4 linked regions of the Homo sapiens genome follow. The protein of the gene in region 3 purifies or fractionates together with the protein of the main gene of each other region. This does not show direct contact. Each region holds a gene or a part of one and is shown on either strand. Other genes may lie near its edges. The genes, in order: DNAJC11, SYT1, ARMC1 and SYN1.

Region 1 (7,044 bases), on a different chromosome or scaffold from region 3:
TCCACTCCAAGCTGCAAGCTCCTTCCAGGGACTGCAATCTGTACCAGGCATATGCTGTAACAGTGGTAATAATGCAGCAATGTTCTCAATTGTCTTCTTTTTAAGAAATGTGTGACTCCTTTAAAAAATATATGCTATTTTATTTTTTCATCTGTTGTCTTACATCCTTTCTTAAACAAAGGTGTAAGTAAGTAAAATTAAAATGAAAGGTTAATAAAAAGCAGACAATAAAATTCTACAGCCAAGCAAAGCATGTTGCTCTCATGTCCCGTTTTCCATTGTTTTATTACTAAATTCACAGCAAATACAAAAGTTTTCCATTGAATTCTCTTTAAGAAAGAAAATAAAAGAGGTGTTTTGGTAGATAATGCAAAATTAGAGCATTAACATTTCAAGAAGCAATTGTTTGAAATGCCCAAAGCAGAAAATAACTGGCTTATAGATCATTAAAGAAACACATTGTGAAATGTAACCTCACGTTTGCCAATCACATTATGAGATGACATTGGAAGTGGTGGGGCATCCTCAACAGCCCCCTCCCTGCACACAGGCAGCTTCTCTAAACTCCACTTCCCGGGCACCCTCTTGGGCCCACCCCTGCCCCCAGCTCTGCCTCCTCTCTGCTTGGCTCACAACTATCCTATCTTTACCCCAAACACCCAAAAAATGTTATCCTTGAGCCTGCACCCTACTCCCATACTTAGCCCCAACTTCCAGGAAAGCTCCCTATCCCCATGTCAACTTTCCAGGAAGCACAAGTTCAGAGAGATCACTGTCTTTTAAAAAGAACAAACTCAGTGTTTTGAACAGAAAGTAAAAAATGCTTCAGGAATTTTTTTTTTTTTTTTTTGAGATGGAGTTTTGCTCTTGTTGCCCAAGATGGAGTGCAATGGCACGATCTTGGCTCACTGCAGCCTCTGCCTCCCGGGTTCAAGTGAATCTCCTGCCTCAGCCTCCCATGTAGCTGAGATTACAGGCATTTGCCACCACGCCTGGCTAATTTTTGTATTTTTAGTAGAGATGGGGTTTCTCCATGTTGGTCACGCTGGTCTCAAACTCCCGACTTCAGGTGATCTGCCCGCCTCAGCCTCCCAAAGTGCTGGGATTACAGGCATGAGCCACTGCGCCCAGCCTCTTTTTTTTTCTTTGACAGAGTCTTGCTCTGTTGCCCAGGCTGGAGTCCAGTGGCACAATCTTGGCTCACTGCAACCTCCGCCTCCTGGGTTTGAGCAATTCTCCTGTCTCAACCTCCCAAGTAGCTGGGATTACAGGCGAGCATCACCACACCCGGCTAATTTTTTTTTTTCGTATTTTTAGTACAGACAGGGTTTCGCCATGTTAATAAGGCTGGTCTCAAACTCCTGACCTCAGGTGATCTGCCCGCCTCCGCCTCCCAAAGCGTTGGGACTGTAAGGCGTGAGCCACCACACCCAACCTCAGGAATTTCATAAACTAATGCTTAGCATACATTCTAGCACTATGATTTTTAGTAATATTACAAGTGGATAGCAAAGTTCATCCTTAGCCAGGATGAAGCATACCAAGTATGTCTTTCACATTTTTAAATTTATTTATGTACATGTATGTCTTTCACATTTTTATTTATTGTTATATTATCGTTTAGATGGATTCTTGCTCTGTCGCTCAGGCTGGAGTGCAGTGGTGGTGCGATCTTGCTTCACTGCAAACTCCATCTCCCGGGTTCAACCAATTCTCTTGCCTCAGCCTCCCGAGTAGCTGGGATTACAGACGCCCACCACCACACCCAGCTAGTTTTTGTATTTTTAGTAGAGACAGGGTTTCACCATGTTGGCCAGGCTGATCTCGAACTCCTGACCTCGTGATTCACCCGCCTCAGCCTCCCAAAGTGCTGGGATTACAGGCATGAGCCACCACGCCCAGCCTTTTATTTATTATTATTTTTATAGACGGAGTCTCGCTTTTTATAGACAAAGTCTCGCTCTGTCGCCCAGCCTAGAGTGTGGTGGTGTGACTGCAGCTCACTGCAGCCCCAAACTTCTAGGTTCAAGCAATCCTCCTGTAACCAAGTACCCCCATTTTTTTTTTTTTTTTTTTTTTGGAGACAGAGTCTCGCTCTGTTGCCCAGGCTGGAGCACAGTGGTGCGATCTCTGCTCACGGCAACCTCCACCTCCCAGCAGAGATTCTCCTGCTTCAGCCTTATGAGTAGCTGGGATTACAGGCGCCCGCCATCAAGTCTGGCTAAGTTTTGTATTTTTAGTAGAGATGGGGTTTCACCATGCTGGCCAGGTGGGTCTTGAACTCCTGACCTCAAGTGATCCGCTGGCCTCAGCCTCCCAAAGTGCTGGGATTCACAGGCATGAGCTACCATGCCCAGCCCCATTTTTTCTAAGAGATAGTTTAATTATTTTCTCCTCTCCCCCTTTCCCCGGTACCCTGCTTCCTACTTAGCCCTTTAGAAATGCAAATATAACCTTTCCCCTCCCCCTCACCAGACATCTTCTATGGGGCAAGTTCAGCTAACTACGTGCTCCAAGACGGATCTCTTGACAGTGGATTTGCAGACCAAATCATGTCCCCATGGCCACTTTTACTTCTTTCTGCCCAGGAAGATGCCAACTCAATTGCCAGTTAGATAAAGTACCCAGATAGCAGGGGGACCCCTGCCCTTGCTCATTTCCTCCTATACCTTATAAAAGTGCCTGCTTTCTGCTCTAAAAGTGAAGCGGTACAGCAGGACATCGTGCCCCTTCCCCAAGCTGACTTCAGAGTAAATTCACTGGCTTTGTATGCGCCTCACTCTTGTTAACTGGACTCTGCATGCGGTAAACAACTGACCTGCTTTTCGGCTGCACCTCCACCTTAGGCTGGACTACAGGTTACAGCTCATGCCACCATGCCCAGCTAATTAAAAAAAATTTTTTTTGGCTGGGCGCGGTGGCTCACACCTATAATCGCAGCACTTTGGGAGGCTGAGGCGGGCGGATCACAAGGTCAGGAGATCGAGACCATCCTGGCTAACACGGTGAAACCCCGTCTCTACTAAAAATACAAAAAAAAAAAAAAAATTATCCAGGCATGGTGGTGGGGGCCTGTAGCCCCAGCTACTCAGGAGGCTGAGGCAGGAGAATGGCGTGAACCCGGGAGGCGGAGCTTGCAATAAGCCGAGATCGCACCACTGCACTCCAGCCTGGGCAACAAAGCGAGACTCCGAATCAAAAAAAAAAAAAAAAAAAAAATCAGCTGGGCGTGGTGGCAGGTGCCTGTAGTCCCGGCTACTCGGGAGGCTGAGGCAGGAGAATGGCGTGAACCCAGATGGCAGAGCTTGCAATGAGCCGAGATTGTGCCACTGCGCTCCAGCCTGGGTGACAGAGCGAGACTCTCTCAAAAAAAAAAAAAAAAAAATTTTTTTTTTTAATTAAAGATGGAGTCTTGCTACGTTATGCCAACCCAGGCTGGTCTCAAACTCCTGGACTTAAGTTATCCTCCTGCCTTAGCCTCCTAAGGTGCTGGAATTACAGGTGTGAGCCACCCCCCAATCCTTATGTCTTTTTTTAAAGTAAGCAAAACTTCAAACTTATCAAAATCCAAGAAATAACAATATATATTAACTAAATACCTACTTATGACAGGCAATTTATATACATTCTCAGCACCTAGCAACGCACATACCACACAGGTCATCCTGGCCTACAGTAAGTGCTTAAGCCATTATTACCTGTTACCTACATTCTAACATTAAAGAAACTGATGGCCAGGTGCAGTGGCTCATGCCTGTAATCCCAGCACTTTGGGAGGCCGAGGCGGATGGATCACGACGTCAGGAGTTTGAGACCAGTCTGGCCAACATAGTGAAACCCTATCTCTACTAAAAAAAAAAAAAAAAAAAAAAAAAAAAAAATTAGCCGGGTGTACTGGTGTGTGCCTGTAATCCCAGCTACTTGGGAGGCTGAGGCAGGAGAATTGCATGAACCTAGGAGGTGGAGGTTGCAGTGAGCTGAGATTGCGCCATTGCACTCCAGCCAGGGTGACAGTGTGAGACTCCATCTCAAAAAAAAAAAAAGAAATTGAGAAACAGAAAGGTTAAATTACTAGCGTTGAAGCATAGAACTTCCAGAAGAGTAAAATGGGATTTGAATACTGGACTCCAGCTGCAAAGCCCTACATAGTGGCCTCCCTCTATCCCATTGTTAACTAAGAAGTACTGGTGCCTCCATTCTGCAGGTAAGTAGAGGCTGAGGTTAAATGACTCGTTGAAGGTCACACAAGAGGCAGGCAGCATGGGCTGAAATTCTTGCTTCTCAGCCTCTTGGCTTACAGAACACCCTATGGAATGCAGACATCTGAATAAGTTGTTTTTGGACAACCGAGGCTTAATTCTATGTGCCTGAGGCACACATTTAACTGGAGTCATTATAAATATCAAACTTTAACATAATGTAGTAGATGGAAAATGAAGGAACTGACCTTTTCAGAGCCATCTTTATTTTTTATTAAGACAAAATTAACTGCCCATCATGAAGTTTGATAAGAAAGCAATAAATGTGTAAACACACACCACCTCACTGCTTTAGGTATTTGAGTCGCTCAAATTGGCACAGTTGAGCCTTTTACATGTCAATTTCTGCAGATGGCTGAGTCAGTGGTCCTGATTGGAGGGTCTGCTGTCTCCTTCTTTGTGGGTGACTTTGACCCTAGGACAATCTTGCCAGTGACCAGGGGACCTTCCTCTACTCTTCTAGCCCTTCCTTTCCATCTGCAGCTCAAACTCAACTGTTGGGCCTCACTCTGTGGCTGTAACCTGCAGCTAAGGAAACCCCAACAACACACAATTGTGAAAATAATGATCTACCCTGTACCAGAGAAGGAATGAAAATGCAGGGACTTGGGGTAAACTTTTTACTGGTAGGTGATACTTTTGTACTTCTAGTTTCATGGCTGTTCTGGAAGGATGAAGATCTCAGAACACTGACCTCCATATATGGACTGCAAGAAAAAAACTATTTATTAACAACTTCATTTTTTACTTAACTGTGTTTTTCCAAAAGTGTTTAAAAGTTGAAAAGGAGGATGGCTCCTTAAGGTTAAAACAATTGGGACCAGAGGTCTTCAAACAGGTTACAAACACTGCAAAAATGAAATTCTTTCAAAGACAATGATAAAGTTAGAACTGTAGCCATTTGTCTTGGGAATAAATTAGGTTTGAAATGTGTCAATTAAATTTCCTAATTAATGGATCAGGTAAATTTAACTCTGATTTATAGTTAAGGAATCCTTTCTCCAAATAAATTTTGGAAAATCATCCTGGAAATCTCAGAGGAGTGAGATTTTAGGAACCAGATGATGCATCTAACACTAAACCAGAAAACCTGTCTGGCTTTGGTGTGCCCAGTGAGTGATAAAGTACTCCCTCCTCTCAGTGTGAGGCAGGCACGACAGATGATGGCCCTGCTCTGTAAACAGGAAATCTAGAAGGAGAATCATTAAAGATCATGTGTCTTGTCATAGGAGAACGGGGGGTCCTTTCCAGCTGCCTGCTTCACTCTCTCCAACGGCGGCAACAATGGGGTCTCCAACCTTTTAGCACCACGGACTGGTTTCATGGAAGATAATTTTTCCACAGACTAGTGGGAGTGGAATGAAACTGTTCCACCTGGGATCATCAGGCATTAGTCAAATTCTCATAAAGAGGACCTAACCTAGATCCCTTGCATGTGCAGTTCCCAATAGGGTTCATGCTCCTATGAGAAGCTAATGCCACCACCAATCTGACAGGCAGAGCTCAGGCGGTGATGCTTGCTTGCCCGATGCTAACCGCTTGCTTGCCCGACGCTAACCGCTTGCTTGCCCACCACTCACCTCCTGCTGTGCGGCCCAATTCCTAACAAGCCACAGACCAGTACTGGTCCATGGCCAGGGGGTTGAGGACCCCTGCTCTAGAATACAAATTTAAGGGGATATTTTAAAGTTTAAATCCTGGAGAGGGAGATTCTTCAGCTGATTGTTGACATTTCTATATTAATCCAATTATATACCTCTATTATGCTTATAATTTTTTTTTTTTTGAGACAGAGTCTTGCTCTGTCACCCAGGCTGGAGTGCAGTGGCGCAATCTCGGCTCACTGCAAGCTCCGCCTCCTGGGTTCACACCATTCTCCTGCCTCAGCCTCCTACAGGCGCCCGCCACCACGCCCGGCTAATTTTTTGTATTTTTAGTACAGACGGGGTTTCACCGTGTTAGTCAGGATGGTCTCCATCTCCTGACCTCGTGATCCGCCCGTCTTGGCCTCCCAAAGTGCTGGGATTACAGGCTTGAGCCACGCGCCCAGCCTATGCTTATAATTTTAAAGTAGGATTCCCTGGTTTTGTCTAGAATTGTTTCCATTTGAGATTTCTAAAGAAAACTCTCTGAACTCTACTGAACATTGAGAGTTTTGAGGACACTCTTTTGAAGGTACTTTGAAGTATCAGTGGGAACAGGGCCTTGCCTCTCACAGCTATACTTAAATGGCAACTACTCTAGAACTGACAGCAAACACACAAACAGGTATTAAGATATTCTTCCAACCACACATTAAGATTTAAGATTACTCTGACTTTTTTCCAACTAAATCACGTTATTTCAACTTCACGTTTGATTTCACACAAAAAATTCCAGCAAATATCAAGTTCAGACATCACCTTCAGAGCTTCTAATGGAATCCCGGGATGGAAAACCAGCACACCACACCTGAGTATGACATTTAACACCGAGTTTGCTGACGAAGACAACAGAAAGTGACTTCTGCAAGGGAGCATGTTTCATATGGATTTAACCTATAGCCATATAGCCATAAATATGGAAAGTGCCTTCACTCATTGGGAGAAGTAAAAAAAAAAAAAAAATTTAAGAAATATTTTTTGGCTGGGTGCAGTGGCTCATGCCTGTAATCCCAGCACTTTGGGAGGCTGAGATGGGTGGACTGCTTGAGCTCAGGAGTTTGAGACCAGCCTGGGCAACACAGTGAGACCCTGTCTCTACAAAAACTACAAAAATCAGCCAGCTGTGGTGGTGTGTGCCTGTA
Region 2 (7,724 bases), on a different chromosome or scaffold from region 3:
ATATTTCTTAATTTGAAAGAATAATATAAACAAATGTTTTTATGAAAAAAAAGCTTAAGTATCCATCCCTAAAAACTAAATTATTCATCTCGTAGATGATTACAGTGTAAGACTACTACATGCAAGACAGATGACTGTTGTCATTTTACGTATTAAAAAAGTTCTGTATCCAGGCGCGGTGACTCATACGTGTAATCTCAGCACTTTGGGAGGTCAAGGTGGAAGGATCACTTGAGCCCAGGAGTTCAAGACCAGCCTGGGCAATATGGCAAAAAAAAAAAAAAAAAAAGAAAGAAAGAAAAAAAAAATTAGCCCAACATTGTGGCATGCACCTGTAGTCCCAGCTACTAAAGAGACTAAGCTGAGAGAATCACCTGAGCCTAGGAATTGGAGGATGCAGTGAGCCATGATTGAGTCACTGCGCTCTAGCATGGGCTACAGAGTTAGACACTGACTCCTCCCATCAAAAAATAAATAAAAGTTCTTATAACATGAATTAACACCCTTCTACCTTTAATGCTCATAGGTGAGGAGTCTATGGCTCACTATTGGCTTAAATGGATGAGATGATGGGAGGAAACCCAATAACCCAGAAATCTGGAAAAAAAAAATAGTAGTAGCAGAAGTAGCAGCAATGATAATGATAAAATGATAATAATAGTCATTAAGTTCTTGCTATGTGCTTGGAACTAGCACTTTATGTGCACTGCTTTTTTTAATCCAGAAAAAAAACCTAATGATAAATGTTGTATTCTTATGTACATATTTTAGATGACAAAACTGAGACTTGGAGGGGTTTTGTACATTTTTCAAGGTGGCATAGCCAATTAGTGGTGAAGCTGGAATTCTACCCAAATTCTGACACCAGAAAACATTTAATTAATTATCTGTCCTGCAAAGAGACCAAAAAGTCAGTATCTTGAGAAACACAGATATAAAGTGAAAAGAATAGTAAGATCTGCATCTATATAAAAAATAAACAAAAAAATAGAAAAATTTAGAGAAGTCAATTATTTTTCTTTTTTAAAGAAACAATCCTGGGTAATGATATTTATAAATAGCTTTTACCAGACAACTACTGTGGCTACTAAAGATATAAAGTTTAATGATGTATGAGTCTTAATTAAATGTAACTCTTTTTTTATTATTTATTTATTTTGAGACAGTCTCGCACTTGTCACCCTGGCTGAAGTGCAGTGGCGGGATCTCGGCTCACTGCAAGCTCCGCCTCTCGGGTTCACGCCATTCTCCTGCCTCAGCCTCCTGAGTAGCTGGGACTACAGGCGCCCGCCACCACGACGGGCTAATTTTTTGTATTTTTAGTAGAGACGGGGTTTCACTGTGTTAGCCAGATGGTCTCCATCTCCTGACCTCGTGATCCGCCCACCTCGGCCTCCCAAAGTGCTGGGATTACAGGCGTGAGCCACCGCGCCCAGCCGGATTAAATGTAACTCTTTAGTATCATTGATCAACCAGGTAATTCTGGCCTTTCCAACAACCTGCAGAATTTTCTTGATACCTCTCTCACGTTAAGTATTCTTTCTGTGGTTTACAGAAACCTTGGCTAAGTTTCCACTTAATGAATTTCTAGTTCTAATGTCCCTAATTCCCACTCTTGCCATAAGACACACTTTCCTCCTCAGTGCCCCAATCCAATTTAGTTTCTATTCTGATCCTGTAGCCTAAAATAGATGGCAAAGGAAGCATGAAAGTAGTAAATAGATGAATCCAATAAAAAAGGAATAAAGAAAATATTGAAAATGAGATCTTGATCAGAGCAAAATGTGAAGAAAAATTAATAACACTTTTTTAACGAAGAAAGAGGAAACAAAACATTAAACAGATTTTGTAAAAGTTCTGAAAATAATATTTTTAAAATACCATACAATCAGGGGATAAGTTAATTCTCAACAGCAAAAGTACTCTAGATGTAAAAGTACTTAAGAAATGGAATGATAAGAGTGACAAAGAGCTCTCTCTTTGTCTCTACAGAACAATTGACCCGATCTTCCTTTTAATAAAAATGAGTCTGCTTCAATAGGCAAAGAGATGATACACACTTGCGGCAAAGTATAATGTTGTGTCAGCCCAGTAGATCCAGGAGGACGTCTTCAACACATTCCCAAGAGCTTGGAGAGAATTTAGGAATAGGAGGGAGAGTTAAAATCTTAGTATAGCTACAGTCACCATATAAATAGAGTCTTCTTATTATTTATGTACAGAAAATGTTATCAATTCTAAAGTTAAGCACAATATACATGTAAAGCCCATTTCTTATTTTAACCTGCAGTCTCCCTCAAGGAACATTGGGTTACAAACTTCTGATACCATTCATGTTGCCAAGGATTCTGGCCACTGAAATAGAAAGATTGCTAGGTAAGATGTGAAGTAAACAGGAAAAGAAATTGACTAAAATATTAATGACAAAATCAGTGTCTGGAGCAAAAATTTTAAAATCTGTATTTGTATTCTATTGACTAATTTATTCTAAAATAAGCATACTTTTTTTCTACATGCAGCTATTGGTAAATAGGATAAATGTGCCAGTTTTAATCACTGGAATCTAGAAAGTATGCTAGGCATATATTTAGAATAAAGATCTATATTAAGTGGATATTATAATAATCTTCTCATCCAAAGATATTTATTGGACAACAAAATTACAGGGTTACTTAATTCTTCTTCGTCTTCTCTTCCTCCTTCTTCTCCTTTTCCTCCACCTCACCATCCTCCTTCTCCTCCCCTTCCTCCTCCTCCAACTTCTTCTACTTTTTATCCTGTCGTTTTTCTTCCTTCTCTGTCTTCTCCTCCTCCTCTCCTTCACTAAATAACTGAAATAAAATTTAGACCAAATTCTTTTATCTTATTTCTCCAACTATGAAATGATTTTAAAATAAGGTTTGGAGACTATTTTGGAAAATGGAAAGTGAATATTTACATGAAGTCACAAGTCTGGGGTGCATTATTTTCACACTTCTACCTCTAATGTTAAACTTCCTATTATTCAAGCATAGCCCAAATACAAGTGTTTGTCACTTAGAAGGATATATTTATATCACGTTGCCTTCTTTTCCCGTATACTTAGAATAAGGATCTTAATCTTAAACATTACATAAGTAGAAGAGATTTAATTAAAAACTTGAAGAAATGTGTTACTGTTAATTGAATTCTTGCTACATTTACCTTTGCACACCAATGTTAATAAAACTCCAGTTCAAAGTGGATGGGTTTGGGGAATTGAGATAGCTATTTATTTCCCTACCTGAGATGCCAAGATAATCTTCTCAGTAAAATAAAGAACCCAATTAGGAGAGTTCTCATTTGTAGCTATTGATCAAGTTTACACAAAATGCTAGGATTTCTAAATAAAACAAATAAGAGGTTCAAAGGCCTTTAAACGAGGTTGAGGGAGGGAGAAAGGGAAATAGTTCTCTCCGTTTTGAAATCCTTTCACCTGTGGAGCAGATAATGGACGGGCCCCTCTCCCAGCTGGGCTCCGCTCCCGCCCCTAGCCTGGCGCGCGGTCCCTTCCCCCACCCGCTGAGCCTTCCTGTTCGGTATTTCGGTATTACCAAGCTATAAATTGCCTGAGAGCTTAGAGACAATCAGGTCACCACCGCCCTCACAAGAGAAAAGCTTCTTACTTCCGAGCAGAACGGTTCAGCTGGGAAGAGAGGAAGCAGGGAGAGAATCTATGCTTTAGTCGTCACTGCTCTGGCAAGGGGTCGAGAGAGATGGGGGAGGGAGGTGGCAAAAAATAAAAATGAAAAAATAAAAAAGCATCTCCAACAATGTTGCACTTGACCCAAGTGTACAAACTTATTGGTCGCTGCAATGGAAACTCCCAGTGCACTCTCCACGGCCTGGCAGCCGCCGCTGATGGGTGGAGTCGCGCTCCCGGCCCCACCTATGGGACGGAGCTGCTTCTCCCGCATCTCGGCTCCACCGCACCCTTCGCGGGAAGTCCCCAGGCTTCCAGCAAAGCTCAGCTTATCCCGCCCCCGCTTCCAACCCGGAACCCCAGAAGAACAGCATGATGAGCCTCCGGCAGCCAGGTGGGCCACCTCCCCGCGGCTCAGTTTGAGGACACTTGTGCGGAACCCTTTCACATCCCCACCCTACCCAGCTTTCACAACTCCGCCGGGTTAAATGGCCAAAGACAAACTTCTACCTCTCCTGTCCCCGGTCCCAGCTTTTCAAAAACCCACAGCTGGCGAACCCACACACATCGAAACTCCTAGGTCGCTGTTGCAGTCTGGGCATGCTCAGTATCAGGGTAGGTTTTGATTGAGAGTAAAAAAAAAAAAAAAAAAGCTTTGTATTATGCTCTCTTTCTCCTGTGCATACTGCTTGCTGAACAGCTTGTGGGGCATTCCTGAGTCTACCTAGAGGTTTTATCAGACGCCCTTGATTGTGTCTCCTTGGGATCTGTTCCCCTCTTACTTCACCCCCTCCCCCAACCCGCCTCCACCCCGCTTCCCAGGTCCCTGTCCGCTGTGGGGATGGAGAGACACTAACAGAACTGGGATGGGCGATGTTGGCTGAACGGATCCACCTATTATTAGTGCGCGGGGATTGGCTCCTTGGCGCAGCGTACCCGAGGTGGAGCCAATCAGGATGCTGGGGCTCGGAGATGATGGGCGGCCGCCTCCTCACTGGAGGGATTCCTGGAGAAGCTGCAGTGTGGGGATGCTCTAGACCGAGTACTGCCCCCAGTGTCTTTCCACCTCCTCCTGCAGCAGCGGCAGCGGCAGCAGCAGTTAGCAGCGGCAACTTGAGGCTGCACCCCGGGCAAGTCCCCAGGGTGGTGCTCAGCCGAGAGGGGGGCTTGGCGCCCCGAAGGGGTGTGTGTAGGGTGGGGGCGACCACGTGGGACCAGCTGGTGGCCCTGGAAAACCTCCCACACACCCACACCCACACACCCCTTTTGTGTTGCAGGCTGCCCCTCCAAGAGCGGAGGCAGCGAGAGTACGCGTGTGCCTCGCGCCGGTCCACGCGGGGAGAGCACTGGGGACCGAGACCCGGCACCACCTCCCGGTCCGCCCTCCAGGTAAGGAAGCGGGACTGGCGGCGCGGCCACCTCGGCGGTGCCTATCTGCTCGAATCCATCCCAAAGATTTTCTTCTCGATACACTTGGGTTTTAGTGGTGGGAGTCTGAGACCTAGGGAGGGATCCCCGGGTGGCCTATTGTGAGAAATATGAGACTACATGTGCATCTCCTGGAAAAGCACTTTGCACAGCGCCCGTGATTTAGAGCCTGGAGTTGATGTTGGGCATCCCCCATCTTCTTGCTTCCTCTTTCCTTCTCTTGTTCTCTCTCCTCCGTCCCCCACCCCCAATCTCAATCTTTTCTCTCTTTCTCTCCCACACCTCCCCTCTCGCCCTCCTCCCACCCTAAGCACGCACAGCGTTTCTTTCTCCTCCTGGAGAGGATTGCCTTTCTTAGAGGAAAGAGGGGGAGTGAAGAAAGGAGAAAGATTTCTTTCTGTTGGGGAGAGGGATATGGGGGGGGGGGGGAACGTAAACAAGATAGAATACAAGCTCTGCGAAAATCAGAGCACATAAAGCAATTAAACTGAATAAGGGGAGTAGACAACCAGTCCAGCTTGGGCTGTCAGAGAGAGGAAGCGTCAAGTTTGACTTGATTTCCTCCTTGCAAGAGTCTATGTCTCTCACTTGATTCGTTCAAATGGAACAAAAATAAACCGACAATCCAACCCACTTTCAACTGCTTAATTGCTTTTGCTTTTGAGTGCCAACCATCTGACTTTTCCTGTTTCCATCTGTCCTGTGGGGCTAACAATTTGGTATTGCACATCAGTGTTAATATCTGAACTTTGAAAGCTTTCTTGAGTAACAAAAAAAAAAAAACAATTAAAATAGATTATTACTTTCCTGAGGTTTCTTGGTATGGCCTGTTGTTGGGGGATCAAAAAATGTAAAGTTTCAAAACATTTGCAAGGGACAACAATTTTATAGGGAGGCTTGGATTTCTACTTTGAGAAAGCTAATCTTCTAGTTAGCTTTGTGTACATGTTGATATTCACTTTCTCCAGTATTAACCCTTTCGTGAAATAAAGCAACTGTTTAACTTTTGTATGGAAGCTACATTTGTGTAGAATTTTCACTTTATTCTACCTTTGTACTATTTGCATTTTATTGTCTGGATACCAAACTTATGCCTGGCTTTATTTTCTTTTAATAGGACAATATTTAATGGATGTAAACATGATGTTTATACAATTTCAGCACTCCCTTTAGAAGGCACATGGAGGCTCAGTTGGACAAGAATCCTCCTGTACTGGAACTAAGTTTAGAAAGTAATGCTAGAAAGATACCCTAAATTTTAAAAATCCTGAAGGGGAAAACATTTTTGTAACGTCTTGTTAAAAGAAAGAAAAATATATCAAAACACCAACATGCCCCTGGCTGCCTGCATAATAGGTCAAGTAAATGGTACTTGTTGGACAGAGCCTTTACAGCAGCTTCAGCAGTCTCTAATTCCATCATTGGGGATATAAGCTTTCTTTTCTTATTATTCTTCAGGGACAGCTAAGCGATAGTACTGTCAGATGGAAGGAGGTATAGAGAAATGCCTCGTTTGATGTAATAGGAAAGCATTCCAAGTGGGTCTTACCTGAACACAGAGAAATCCACAGATGTTAGTATACAAAACACTTCTTTTTATTTATCAGGGGAAATGCAGAGTCTTACTTTTTTTTGTCTAGAACTCCACTTGATATAAGAAAAGAGAATCTTCTATCTTAACTGTGTCTGACCTTCCACACTAATTTTGTATCTCAGAGAGTATTTTTTCACTACGTACGTTTAATATATAAGTTTACACACCAACTTAGAGAAGAGCTGAATTCATTTGCCATCAGTGTAATGTGTACTATTTTCCAAACCATTTTGCATTTGAGGCAATGATCTCTCCCTAAATAGAATTACCAAGTCACGAAAAACGATTTTCTTTCTAGGGCTTTGACATTTAAATGAAAAAAAAAAAAAAATAGTGTCTCTGTTGAAAGCTAACTCTGGTTTTTAGAGGTGCCACCTTTTGGTTACAAGGACAAAGGGACAATCACTTAATTACCTCACATGTATGTACAACTGAATTAACAAGTTTAGACATGAAAAGATGTACAAAAAGGAAGCCAGCTGCCTTCATGTGAGAAAATTAAGATTTTGTTTTCTCATTTCTCCACTGTCTTAGGAATATGTGAAAATTTAGGCTTGGTTTGTGACATTTATTTTCATGACTCTTTACAAATGTTAATTATAGAAATAACATCTAAAAATATGGATATGAGTAGTTTTTCAAATACTTCTAAAAAATTCAATATCTGTGTATTGGAAATCAGAACTAATTCCAATATATAGTGAGTGGATTGGGGAGAGACCTTACATGATATATTATAGGAAATTCTTACTTTGTTATCCCACAAAATAGTCTAATGTCACAATTTCATACAATCTTTGTTTTTTCTCCCTTTGACAGGATATTTTAGTAAATCTCATTAATGTTTCAGAGTAAATATGATAATTATGCCTCGAGGTATTTTTGTCAGAATTGAAGACTGCTAATATATAGGGAAAATCCTAAAATACTAATTTCACAAAAATACCACATGATTGAGAGTTGTTGCTGAGTAGTTTTGAACTTCATTTCATAATGGAGAATATTAGTTATTTCATCTGGTCAAATTATCAGATAGTTCTA
Region 3 (7,566 bases):
AGCTTACAAAGGATCTTTCCTGGAAGTTGAGACCCTTTTCCTCTAGTTCTGTTTTTTCTTTCCCCAGCTCTAATTGCCCCCTGGAGAAAATGTAACACACTGAAATAAGCTTCAGGAGGTTCTGCATTAGAATATAGGAATGGATGGTAAAAGATTATTGGGTAGGACGGTGAAGTGCCCTTCTGAAGGGTGCTTTGAGACACAGTGAGGCTAGATGTGTCTGGGAGAGGCTGGGCTACAGGAGAGCTGGTCAAGACCAGTTAGTGGGCCAACTTCATCTCACCTGAGGCAAGAGTCAGTGATGCATGCAGTGCCCATTGACTTCAAAGCTCCTTTAATTACTAATAAAAGCACATATTGGGCTGGGCGAGGTGGCTCACGCCTGTAAAATCCCAGCACTTTGGGAGGCCGAGGCGGGCAGATCACCTGAGGTCAGGAGTTTGAGACCAGCTTGGCCAATATGGTGAAACCCCATTCCTATTGAAAATGTAAAAAGTAGCCAGGTGTGGTGGTGCATGCCGTAATCCCAGCTACTCGGGAGGCTGAGGCAGTAGAATCACTTGAATCCAGAATGCAGAGGTTGCAGTAAGCCGTGATCACACCACTGCACTCCAGTGCACTCCAGCCTGGGCGACAGAGCAAGACTCCATCTCAAAGAAGAAAAAAAAAAAGCACATATTGTTGGGAAAAGATAACATTTTAATCTGCATTTATTATCTAAATCTCAATTTGAATGAATGTTTTTACCATGGTGCCCAATGAAAAATTGTTGAGCTATTTTGTTTCAGTCATAGACTTTGGGGCATATTTGGTTGTTCTGAGTCTTGAAACAGTTTAATTCTTCTTAGATCAGTGCATAGTGACCAGAAAAAAAAAAATCTATATCCAAATAGGTTAAAGGATCACCACTTTCCAGAGATTGTGGTATTCTTTTCTATAAACCAGCTCTTGGGATTGACCCTGACCTATAGAGCTGTTTTTCTTTTTTTGAGACAGAGTCTCGCTCTGCTACCCAGGCTGGAGTGCGATGGTGTGATCTCTGCTCACTGCAACCTCTGCCTCCCGGGTTCAAGTGATTCTCCTGCCTCAGCCTCCCAAGTAGCTGGGACTGCAGGCGTGTGCCACCATGCCTGGCTAATTTTTGTATTTTTAGCAGAGACGGGGTTTGGCCATTGTCGGCCAGGCTTGTCTGGAACTCCTGACCTCAAGTGATCCACCCACCTCGGCCTCCCAAAGTGCTGGAATTACAGGTGTGAGCCGCCACGCCTGGCCAGCTGCTTTTTAAAACAAGTCCAATGTATCCATTTTTTTTCTTGTTTAACTTTTGGGTTTCCAGTTTTGTTCAAGGTTTCCCTCTGCTTCTAGGTCATATATGTAGTCTTCAAGGTTTGAGTTTTTAATACACCTGGAATTTATTTTTTTGGTAAATGATGTAATATATGGATCCAATTTTATTTTCATCTGGATGGGTAGTGAGAGCTTCAATTTATAAATATTTCTCTTTCTTTAAAAATTTCTACTTTGACATTTTCAAAACTACATATTAATTTGATAGTACATGTATAGAATTTAGGAATAAATACATATAAATATGTCAGAGCTATGTACTCGAATACATATATATAAAGCTGAAAGTGTTGCCTGATCAAAAAGTTTTGAAATCCACTGTTTCTTGAGCTCTTTAGACCATGAGCTGCTTGAGGGCAGGGATTGTGATTTTCCTTACCTTTGAATCCATAGTCAAGATTGTCTATGGCACATTGTATGCGTTCAAAAACCGGTTGTTAAATAATTAAATGAATGAAACTGCCAGTATCTGAATCATGTCTTAAGCAACACAGCTACTGAGAAACGACATTCCAGTGTCCCGTGGGAAGATACCTGAGGCTAAGAACAAGCAATGACTCACAATGGGAGGTAGTATAACTTCACTGGTGTCAAGCTTAGACATTTTTTATTTTTTTGAGACGGAGTCTCGCTCTGTCGCCCAGGCTGGAGTGCAGTGGTGCGATCTCGGTTCACTGCAAGCTCCGCCTCCCGGGTTCACGCCATTCTCCTGCCTCAGCCTCCAGCTGGGACTACAGGCGCCTGCTACCACGACCGGCTAATTTTTTTTTTTTTTTGTATTTTTAGTAGAGACGGGGTTTCACCGTGTTAGCCAGGATGGTCTCCATCTCCTGATCTTGTGATCCGCCCGCCTCGGCCTCCCAAAGTGTTGGGATTACAGGCTTGAGCCACCACGCCCGGCCAAGTTTAGACATTTTAATATGGGAATACAGATTATTAAAATCTTTAAATACCTCCCTAAGGCTTATAATCCATAGGTGCTTAGGAAACTGGTAATTATTTTTTTGTGAACACACCCCCTGCTTCTTAATAGCAGTCATCTATTCTGTAATGGCAGTGTGCAGGAAGAATTACTTTTCTCAATAATGGCAGAAGCATGATTATATTTAGTATTTATTTATTTATTTATTTTGAGACGGAGACTCGCTCTGTCTCCCAGACTGGAGTGCAGTGGCACGACCTCGGCTTAGAACCTCCGCCTCATGGGTTCAAGCAATTCCCCTGCCTCAGCCTCCGGAGTAGCTGGGACTACAGGCGCCCGCCACCACGCCAGGCTAATTTTTTGTATTTTTAGTAGGGACGGCTGACCGGGCGCGGTGGCTCACGCCTGTAACCCCAGCACTTTGGGAGGCCGAGGCGGGCGGATCACCTGAGGTCAGGAGATAGAGGCCAGCCTGACCAACATGGAGAAACTCCGTCTCTACTAAAAATACAAAAATTAGCCGGGCGTGGTGGCGCATGCCTGTAATTAGGGAGGCGGAGGTTGCGGTGAGCCGAGATTGCGCCATTGTACTCCAGCCTGGGCAGGAAGATAGAAATTCTGTCTCAAAAAAAAAAAAAAAAAAAAAGTAGAGACGGGGTTTCACCATGTTGGCCAGGCTAGTCTCGAACTCCTGAACTCAGGTGATCCACCCACCTCGGCCTCCCAAAGTGCTGGGATTACAGGCGTGAGCCCCCGTACCTGCCTTCCTAATATATTAACGTTAACAAAAATAGCAAGTTTAATTTCCTGGGATTTTTTTTTAGTTGTTTTTAATAACTATACTGAAGAAAGTAACTCAACCAAATGGGTTATGTTTAACCTGGCTGTGCCCTTTGGACTTTTTTTTTTTTTTTTTTTAGACCGTCTCGCTCTGTTGCCCACGCTGGAGTGCAGTGGCGTGATCTCGGCTAACTGCAATCTCAGCCTCCCAGGTTCAATCGATTCTCCTGCCTCAGCCTCCCAAGTAGCTGGGATTACAGGCGCCCGCAACGACGCCTGGTTAGTTTTGTTTGTTTGTTGGTTGGTTTTTAGTAGAGACAGAGTTTCACCATGTTGGCCAAGCTGGTGTCGAAATCCTGACCTCAAGTGATCCGCCCACCTCGGCCTCCCAAAGTGCTGGGATTACACGCGTGAGCCACCGCACCCGGCCTATTTGTTTTCTACTTAGCTTATTTTGCTCCTATTTTGAGTTCATTGGAAGCAAGAGGATAACCGAGAACAAGGGAACGGAAAGAAATTCAAGAAGTAGCTGCTTGGTTTTTAAATTCAAGAAGTATAGGAGATATTAGCATTGAATACAATCTGGGATATTTATTGTTATCCACACTCTTTTCCTATTAGAGGCCTCTCATATTCCTTCTGACTTTAATACATGAGCTACGTGGCCGAATCAAACTGTTATGGAGAGAATCCAGAATCTGTTTATTGGGGTTATTGACTGCAATGGATACATTATTCTCAAAGATCTGCCTGCGGGTTAAGAGTAGGTTTGTATTTAAAGAAATTAAAAAAAAAATAAAATCTATGCCTAAACAAAAACTTCAAGTGATTGCCATCCATAAAACAAGTATATAAATCCTTACTTTGATAAACTACATAGAAGATATTTTAAAATATGAATTTGAGAAGATTGTGATAATAAATTCCTTACAAGAAAAAAAAAAAAACCTCTTCCCCAAAATAAATTGCTACTTAAACGAAAACTGTACTTTGCGTCTTTCAAGCTGCTAGGGAGACAGTGGACACCAAGAAGAAATAAACGAAAATCCAAGGAACGCCTAATGTAGTGCTAACGTCCACAGTAAAACACAAAACAAAAAAAATTTATGAATTAAGACTCACAGAAGCGAATAAAATATTAGGTATTGCCTTTATTAGAATTGCAAGAGTTGCTAAAGAAATACTCAATTTGAATTACCGAATGCAGGACCGGAGAAGTCCTGCTGGCCCCACAAAGCTGGGTATTGAGGTTGTGAAGGTGTGACAGTTTCCCAGCCGGAATCAAATTTCTTCGGTTAGGGCTTGGTGGACGGCGAGTAGTTAGGGCCAATATAGTGTTCCTGGGTCCTCATTGGATCAGTCCCTTGACTCTTAGTGTATTTCCCTAAACCACCTATGAGCGCTTCACTCTAAAAAGACCTTCACTGATTGGATACTTTATCCTCACGTTGGACTCATTATCAGCCAATAGGAGGGCATAAGCGACAGAGGCGTCAGGTCACCTGGGAAGAGTCTGCAGAGCCTTTGCCCGCCAGCGCCTTCGCTCTTTGGCTCCCTGAGTTAGTCCGGTTGCTTGCGATCGCCGCGGCCGGGGCTGCGAACCGAAGGGCTCGCTCCGCGCCGCCTGGGTCTCTACCTCATCCGTAGGTGTGGCCCTGATGGTGTGGCAGGCTCTGGACTCCTAAAGCTCTGGAGCGGTATGTGGGGTCCACGGGCGGCAGACAAAGCAGTGGAGCCGGGAAGGCCGCGGGAAGCGGCCCCTGTACCGAGGCAGCGAATCCGCCTGGGAGGGGCGCCCCGCCTGCCTCTTGTCAGATCCAGTAGTGGGTCCCAGTGAGGCGCTTTAGCACGCTCTACCCCCACGTGTCCCGTGAATCTGTTAGCTTTGCTCATTTCTTCTTTGTCCCCCCTCACATCTGACTTTTACTAACCCCAGTATTATTAATGGGTGTCATCTCATCTTTTCATCTCTCCAGGTTATTCTTTGGTAACTTTCTGTTAGTTTTGTGCACCTGCGTGTCTCCTAAGAGCGGAAAGACATAGTTGTGTTAGGCTTAATTCAAGAGAGACCAGTGTTCCCATTTTTATATTTAAGACTGTGTTTTGGGAGGGCGGGGGTAGGTATTCGTGCAGTTAGCAACTCCTTTCGTGATACTTAGTGCACTGAAGTGTCAGGGCAGTGCAGAAGGTACCTCCAACACCTGGCAGGACAGATGTCCCCACATGAGCAAGTAGTATTCTGGTTTGGTAATTGCTGGTGTTTGATTTTACCATTTCGCGTTCTTACTTTAATCTGATAACCGCTGAGGATTGTTATGTGAGATAACTGAGGCTCTAAGAACTTAACTTCTCAAAGTTACAGTTAACTCTTCGAGTAAGGGGAAAGTCAGATTTAATATCAATGCTTATGTTATTTTTATCAAAGCCCACCTAACTGAATAAGGATTTAGGTTAAACGTATTCCCTCTGCATCTCTTGGCATGTGAGAATTAAATCTTTGAATTGAATGGTGAATCTTGACTGTACGAGAAGGAAAAATCTTGCAGGCATCTGCCTAATTACAGGTGTCTCACATGTATCTTCTAACTGCTTGCTTCTCAGAGTGTGACAAGTAGCATAGGCCTCACCTGGAAGCTTGTTGGAAATGCGGAATCTCAGACTCTCCCACCTACTGAATCAGCATTTGCTTTTTAACAGGAACCTTTAACTGACCAGAGTGCTCATTAAACGATGAGAAGTATTCTTTGTCATAGAATGATTTGTTTGTCCAAGTTGAACTAAACAAGAGAAAGTAAAGGTATAAAAAGTCTTTTCACATTTTCATCATTTGTTAGTGAGGCTATGGTCTTTATTTTTTATTTTTTTTTTTGAGACGGAGTATCGCTCTGTCGCTCAGGCTGGAGTTCAGTGATGCGATCCCGGCTCACTGCAACCTCCGCCTCCCGGGTTCAAGCGATTCTCCTGCCTCAACCCCTGGAGTACCAGAGGCCTTGGCCTCCCGAAGTGCTGGGATTACAGGCGTGAGCCACTGTGCCCGGCGTCTTGTAGAGTTTTATTTTATTATTACTATTATTATTATTTTGAGACGGTATCTCGCTCTGTTGCCCAGGCTGGAGTGCAGTGGCACAATCTCGGCTCACTGCAAGTTCCGCCTCCCGGTTTCACGCCATTCTCCTGACCCAGCCTCCCGAGTAGCTGGGACTACAGGTGCCCCCCACCACGCCTGGCTAATATTTTGTATTTTTAGTAGAGACGGGGTTTTACTGTGTGAGCCAGGATGGTCTCAATCACCTGACCTCGTAATCCGCTCGCCTCGGCCTCCCAAATTTTATTATTATTATTATTATTTTGAGATGAGCTGTCACTCTGTCGAGCTCCCAGGCTCAGGTGATCCTCCCACCTCAGCTTTTGTATTTTTAGTAGAGATGGGGTTTTGCCATGTTGCCCAGGCTGGTCTTGAACTTCTAGGCTCAAGAGATCCACCCCCCTGGGCCTCCCAAAGTGCTTGGATTACCGGCCTGAGCCATGGTACCTGGCCATCTTACAGAGTTTTAGAGCTTAGCATTTTATTCATATGTTCATAGCCATGTTTAAAAGAGATGCATTTATACAGCAGCATAAAGTTTTAGTGGCTCTGCCACTGCCATCCAGCCTGGGCAACAGAGCGAGACCCTATCTTAAAAATAAAATAAAAATTATTTTGCACTTTGCCAAATTGGGCATATAGTGGGTAGGATAGACTGAATCCTGAAATATTCATTTAAAATCATTTTTTCCAACCTATGAAGATAGACTTTTTTTTTTTTTTTTTAAGAGACAGGGTCTTGCTATGTTGTCCATGCTGTAGTAAAGTGGCTGTTCACAGGCAAGATCATAGCACACTGTAGACTTGAACTCTGGCCTCAACCAGTCTCCTGCCTCAGCCTCCTGAGTTACTGCACCCAGCAAAGGCGGACATTTTTATCAAACAGCTTGAGTGTGTGAAGTTGATGAAATTAACACAGAAACATAATATGTATCTAATACATGATTGGGGTTAGAGTTGTAACTTTCGTTTATCTGTTTTCAGTTTCCTAACTGTTCTATTGCTATCTCATAAAATCTGCTTTGTGAACGCTGCAATCCACAGAAATATTGATCATTTAACAGAATTCAAGCAATGGCCAGGCGTGGTGGCTCACGCCTGTAATCCCAGCACTTTGGGAGGCCGAGGAGGGTGGGTCACCTGAGGTCAGGAGTTCAAGACCAGCCTGGCCAACACGGCGAAACCCCGTCTCTACTAAAAATAAAAAATTAGCCGGGCATGGTGGCAGGCACCTGTAGTCCCAGCTACTTGGGAGGTTGAGGCAGGAGAATTGCTTGAACCTGAGAGGCAGAGGTTGTGATAAGCCGAAATCGTACCACGCCACTCCAGCCTGGGTGACAGAGTGAGACCCTGTTCCCCCCCAAAAATTCAGGCAATGTGGTAGTTAGAAATGGATGTCAGAGTAACTTGTTATCATCAAGAATATCAAGGT
Region 4 (3,501 bases), on a different chromosome or scaffold from region 3:
CCTCGGAACCCTCCTTGCACCGCACCCAGGCCGATGAGTTGCCTGCCTGCCTACTCAGCGCAGCCCGCCTTGTGCCTTAGGCCCCGCCCAAGCCACCAGGGAGCCAATCTCAGCCCTCCACGCCAAGGAGCCTTGCCCACCAGCCAATCAATGTTCGTCTCTGCCCTGATGCTGCCTCAGGATCCCCCATTCCCCACCCTGGGAGATGAGGGGGTCCCCATGTGCTTTTCCAGTTCTTCTGGAATTGGGGGACCCCCGCCAAAGACTGAGCCCCCTGTCTCCTCCATCATTTGGTTTCCTCTTGGCTTTGGGGATACTTCTAAATTTTGGGAGCTCCTCCATCTCCAATGGCTGGGATTTGTGGCAGGGATTCCACTCAGAACCTCTCTGGAATTTGTGCCTGATGTGCCTTCCACTGGATTTTGGGGTTCCCAGCACCCCATGTGGATTTTGGGGGGTCCCTTTTGTGTCTCCCCCGCCATTCAAGGACTCCTCTCTTTCTTCACCAAGAAGCACAGAATTCTGCTGGGCCTTTGCTTGTTTATTTTGTTTCCCGACTCTTCTCTTGGGGTTCAGAGCCGCTGAGGGGTGGGGTGAGTCCAGGCAAGGAGTGAAGGTCAGGGGGAGGTGCGGACCACATAAACAGCGTCACTGCACGCATCACCACAGGCGGCACGATGAACGAGGACCACATATGCCAAGCACGGCACAAAAGGAGGCCACGTCAGTCACAGACACAGACACCACAGCAAAGGTGGGGAAGCGGAGACCACTGGCCTTCCGTGTGCAAAGGATTCTGGGAAGATGGGTGGAGTTTGCATATTTAAAGACAGCTGTCAGAGGCAGGAAACTGGGGAGGGGGTCCCTGGGGGAACCGAGGGGTCCTGGAAGTGGGAGGGGCTCCCAAGGTATTGAATGAGGTTGAGGGGAGCTGGTGAAGGGAAATCCTTGTGGGGCTAGGTGTTGGGTGGCATTTGAAGATGTGGATCTTCAGAGGGATGGAAGATCCATGGGAAGGGGCTCAACAGTAGGGGTTTCTTGAGGATTTGGAAAATTATGATGGGAAATAGGTGTGCTGGAGAGATTTGGGACCAAAAATAGGGTTTTCCAGGAACTTCAGGGCTCCAGGAAGGGATTCTGCAATGGGTTGCCTGGTATTTGGGCACTTCCAGGAAGGAAAACGCCCTCTGGGGAAACCAGGGGCGGAGGTCTTCAGGAATGTGGAGGTTCTAAAACAGAAGTAGATCCTGAAGTGACCACGAGTGGGGTTCTAAAAGGACTTGGGGATTCCACATGTGAGAACCGGATTTAGGGCCAGGAGGAGTCAGGTTTCTCAAGGTACTCGGGGATCTTGAGGAATGAGAGGTGGAATCTTGGAGAACCGGGAGATGGGTTCTCAAGGGATTTGGAGACTCCAAAAGTGAGAAATGGATTCAGGGCCCAGAGAAGGGTTGCCCAGGGATTTTGGGGTTCTCAGAGTGGGGTATCAGTCGGAGAAGAGGCTGGCGAAAGACTTCCTCAGGCTGCGGATGGTCTCAGCTTTCACCTCGTCCTGGCTAAGGCTGGGCCTGGGCGGGGCTGGCTCTGGAAGGTTGAAGGCATTGGTCAGAGACTGGGATTTGCTAGAGAGAGACAAGGTGGAGGCGTGGGAGGAAGGGGGAAGAGGAAGGGGAGGAAGGGGAGAGAAACACAACGTTACCCCAGGCCCAGCCCCAGCCCTGCCCCTCTGATCCTGGGGCTGTGCCTGTGACCTCCCCACCTGCCACCATGGGCCTGGACCCTAACAGGTTCTCAAGGCTGGGAGCACTCAGGTGGAGTGGGTGGAGTCCTGGGCCAGGGAGGCGAGATCTGGGACAGGCTGGGAGGACTTGGATCCAGGGTGAAGTGTGGGATTCGTGGCAAGAGTCCTGGGCAGAACCTTCTCTGTGAATTCTTGGCTAGTTTGATACAAAGGGGAAGATGAGCAGGGAAGTTTCCAATCTAAGGGTGAGGTGTCTAGGAGGGCATAGAAAGGGCTTGGACCAAGGACAGGCTGTTGGGCAAGTCAGCCTAAGGCAGAGCAGCTGGGTGGGGCAGGGAGGACGTCTGAGCTGGGATGGGAGTTGGAATGGACCAGAAAAGGCAGATGGGTGATGATTCGCGGGGAGACTGAGATGGGCCAGAAGGATGTGAAGGAGGAGGAAAAGTATGAGGATGGAGTGGGAAGAGCCAGATGATAGGAGGACTAGGACTCGGGCCAGGAGTTTTAGGGATGGGTTGGTGGCGGGGGGGCGAGTTTGGCAGGGAAGGCTCTGGGCTGGGCAGGAAGTTGCAGAGGGTGGGTCAGCCAGGTGCCTGGGAGGCCCTGGAGGAGGAAACTTTCCCAGGGCCTTTGAGGAGGAATTCGAACTGAGTGCAGTTTCTCTGGGATTCTGGCACCAAATTCCTGGGGTGGGGGTGCGGAGCCTCTGGTGGGCCGGGAGGAGCGAAAGCTTGGGGGAAGGGCTTGGCTCAGGCTGGAGAGAGTTCGTGGGACCCCTGCATAGGACCTGGGTCTGAGGAGCAAGGGAGCTAGGGCTGCTCTACTGGGGCAGCGGCCCGCTTTGTGAGCAGCAAGGCGAAGGCTGCTGTAGGGGTCCCCTTACTTGAGCTGGGGGTGCGGAGGTCCCCCTGCAGCGGCGGTGGCGGGTGGCGGCACGTCCTGGCTGGGTTTCTGGGCCAGCTGTGGTTTGGGACGTCCAGCGGGGCCCGGGCCGCTGGGCCGAGGCTGCTGCGTGGTGGGTGGCCCAGTGCGGGGCACGGGACCCGCCTGGCTGGCCTGGCGTGTGGGGCCGGCTGGGCCTGGGGGTTTCTGGGGCGGGCCCTGGCGCTGCTGCCCGCCCGGTGGGGCCCCAGAGGCCTTTGGCGGAGCCGGGCCAGAGACGGATGTCTGACGGGTAGCCTGTGGGGGGCCCGCCTGGCGCTGGGGAGACGGAGAGGCGGGCGGGCGGGCTGCTGGAGGCGCCCCGGGGCCTCCCGCCACTGGCCGGGATTGGCGGCCTTGACCCTGGGTCGGCGGCGCGGCCTGGGACGCGGGCTGCTGGGGCGCTGAGGTGGGACTTGGAAGGCGCTGGGGCAGGGGGCTGCCAGCTGGGGGTCCAAGGCCTGAAAGGTGCTGCTGGCCCTGCGGGGGCGGGCGCTGCTGCAATGGGGGTCCCTGGCGCTGGGGGCCTGGACCCGGCTGTGGAGGGCCGCCTGGGGGACAGAGGGAGAGAAAGAGCACACGTGAGAGTGAGCGGGTAAGAGATGGCGGGCTGAGGGAGGGGACTGCGACCGCCAGCCTCTCGCTTACCCTGTGGTGGGGGTCGCTGCTGAGCCGGGGGCCCTGCGGGCTGCTGGGAGGTCTGGCGGCCCAAGGGCAGGGCCCCTGGGGACGGAGTCTGCGGCAGAGGAATGGAGCAGGAGAGGTTAAAAATAGTTACCAGCCAGTGGAGCATCAGCCAGTGATGACACAGGTTCCCTGTGCGCTGGGTGTTGCCCCAC

Evidence for each region.
Region 1: the proteins of ARMC1 (region 3) and DNAJC11 purify together in Homo sapiens (affinity purification with mass spectrometry; 6 studies listed by BioGRID and IntAct, with this or other methods). This does not show direct contact.
Region 2: the proteins of ARMC1 (region 3) and SYT1 purify together in Homo sapiens (affinity purification with mass spectrometry; 3 studies listed by BioGRID and IntAct, with this or other methods). This does not show direct contact.
Region 4: the proteins of ARMC1 (region 3) and SYN1 purify together in Homo sapiens (affinity purification with mass spectrometry; 3 studies listed by BioGRID and IntAct, with this or other methods). This does not show direct contact.

The regions. Positions count from the first base shown.
Region 1 is NC_000001.11:6,691,778-6,698,821, forward strand, and holds part of DNAJC11 (dnaJ homolog subfamily C member 11), read right to left. Parts: intron 1-7,044.
Region 2 is NC_000012.12:78,860,060-78,867,783, forward strand, and holds the start of SYT1 (synaptotagmin-1), read left to right. Parts: upstream 1-4,714; 5' UTR 4,715-5,050; intron 5,051-7,724. UniProt on the Homo sapiens protein: Calcium sensor that participates in triggering neurotransmitter release at the synapse. May have a regulatory role in the membrane interactions during trafficking of synaptic vesicles at the active zone of the synapse.
Region 3 is NC_000008.11:65,631,178-65,638,743, reverse strand, and holds the start of ARMC1 (armadillo repeat-containing protein 1), read left to right. Parts: upstream 1-4,566; 5' UTR 4,567-4,746; intron 4,747-4,818; exon of another isoform or gene 4,819-5,846; intron 5,847-7,566.
Region 4 is NC_000023.11:47,571,378-47,574,878, forward strand, and holds the end of SYN1 (synapsin-1), read right to left. Parts: intron 3,399-3,501; coding exon 3,311-3,398; intron 3,214-3,310; coding exon 2,625-3,213; intron 1,623-2,624; coding exon 1,487-1,622; 3' UTR 524-1,486; downstream 1-523. Other genes in the region: ARAF (serine/threonine-protein kinase A-Raf), read left to right, coding at 1-80. UniProt on the Homo sapiens protein: Neuronal phosphoprotein that coats synaptic vesicles, and binds to the cytoskeleton. Acts as a regulator of synaptic vesicles trafficking, involved in the control of neurotransmitter release at the pre-synaptic terminal.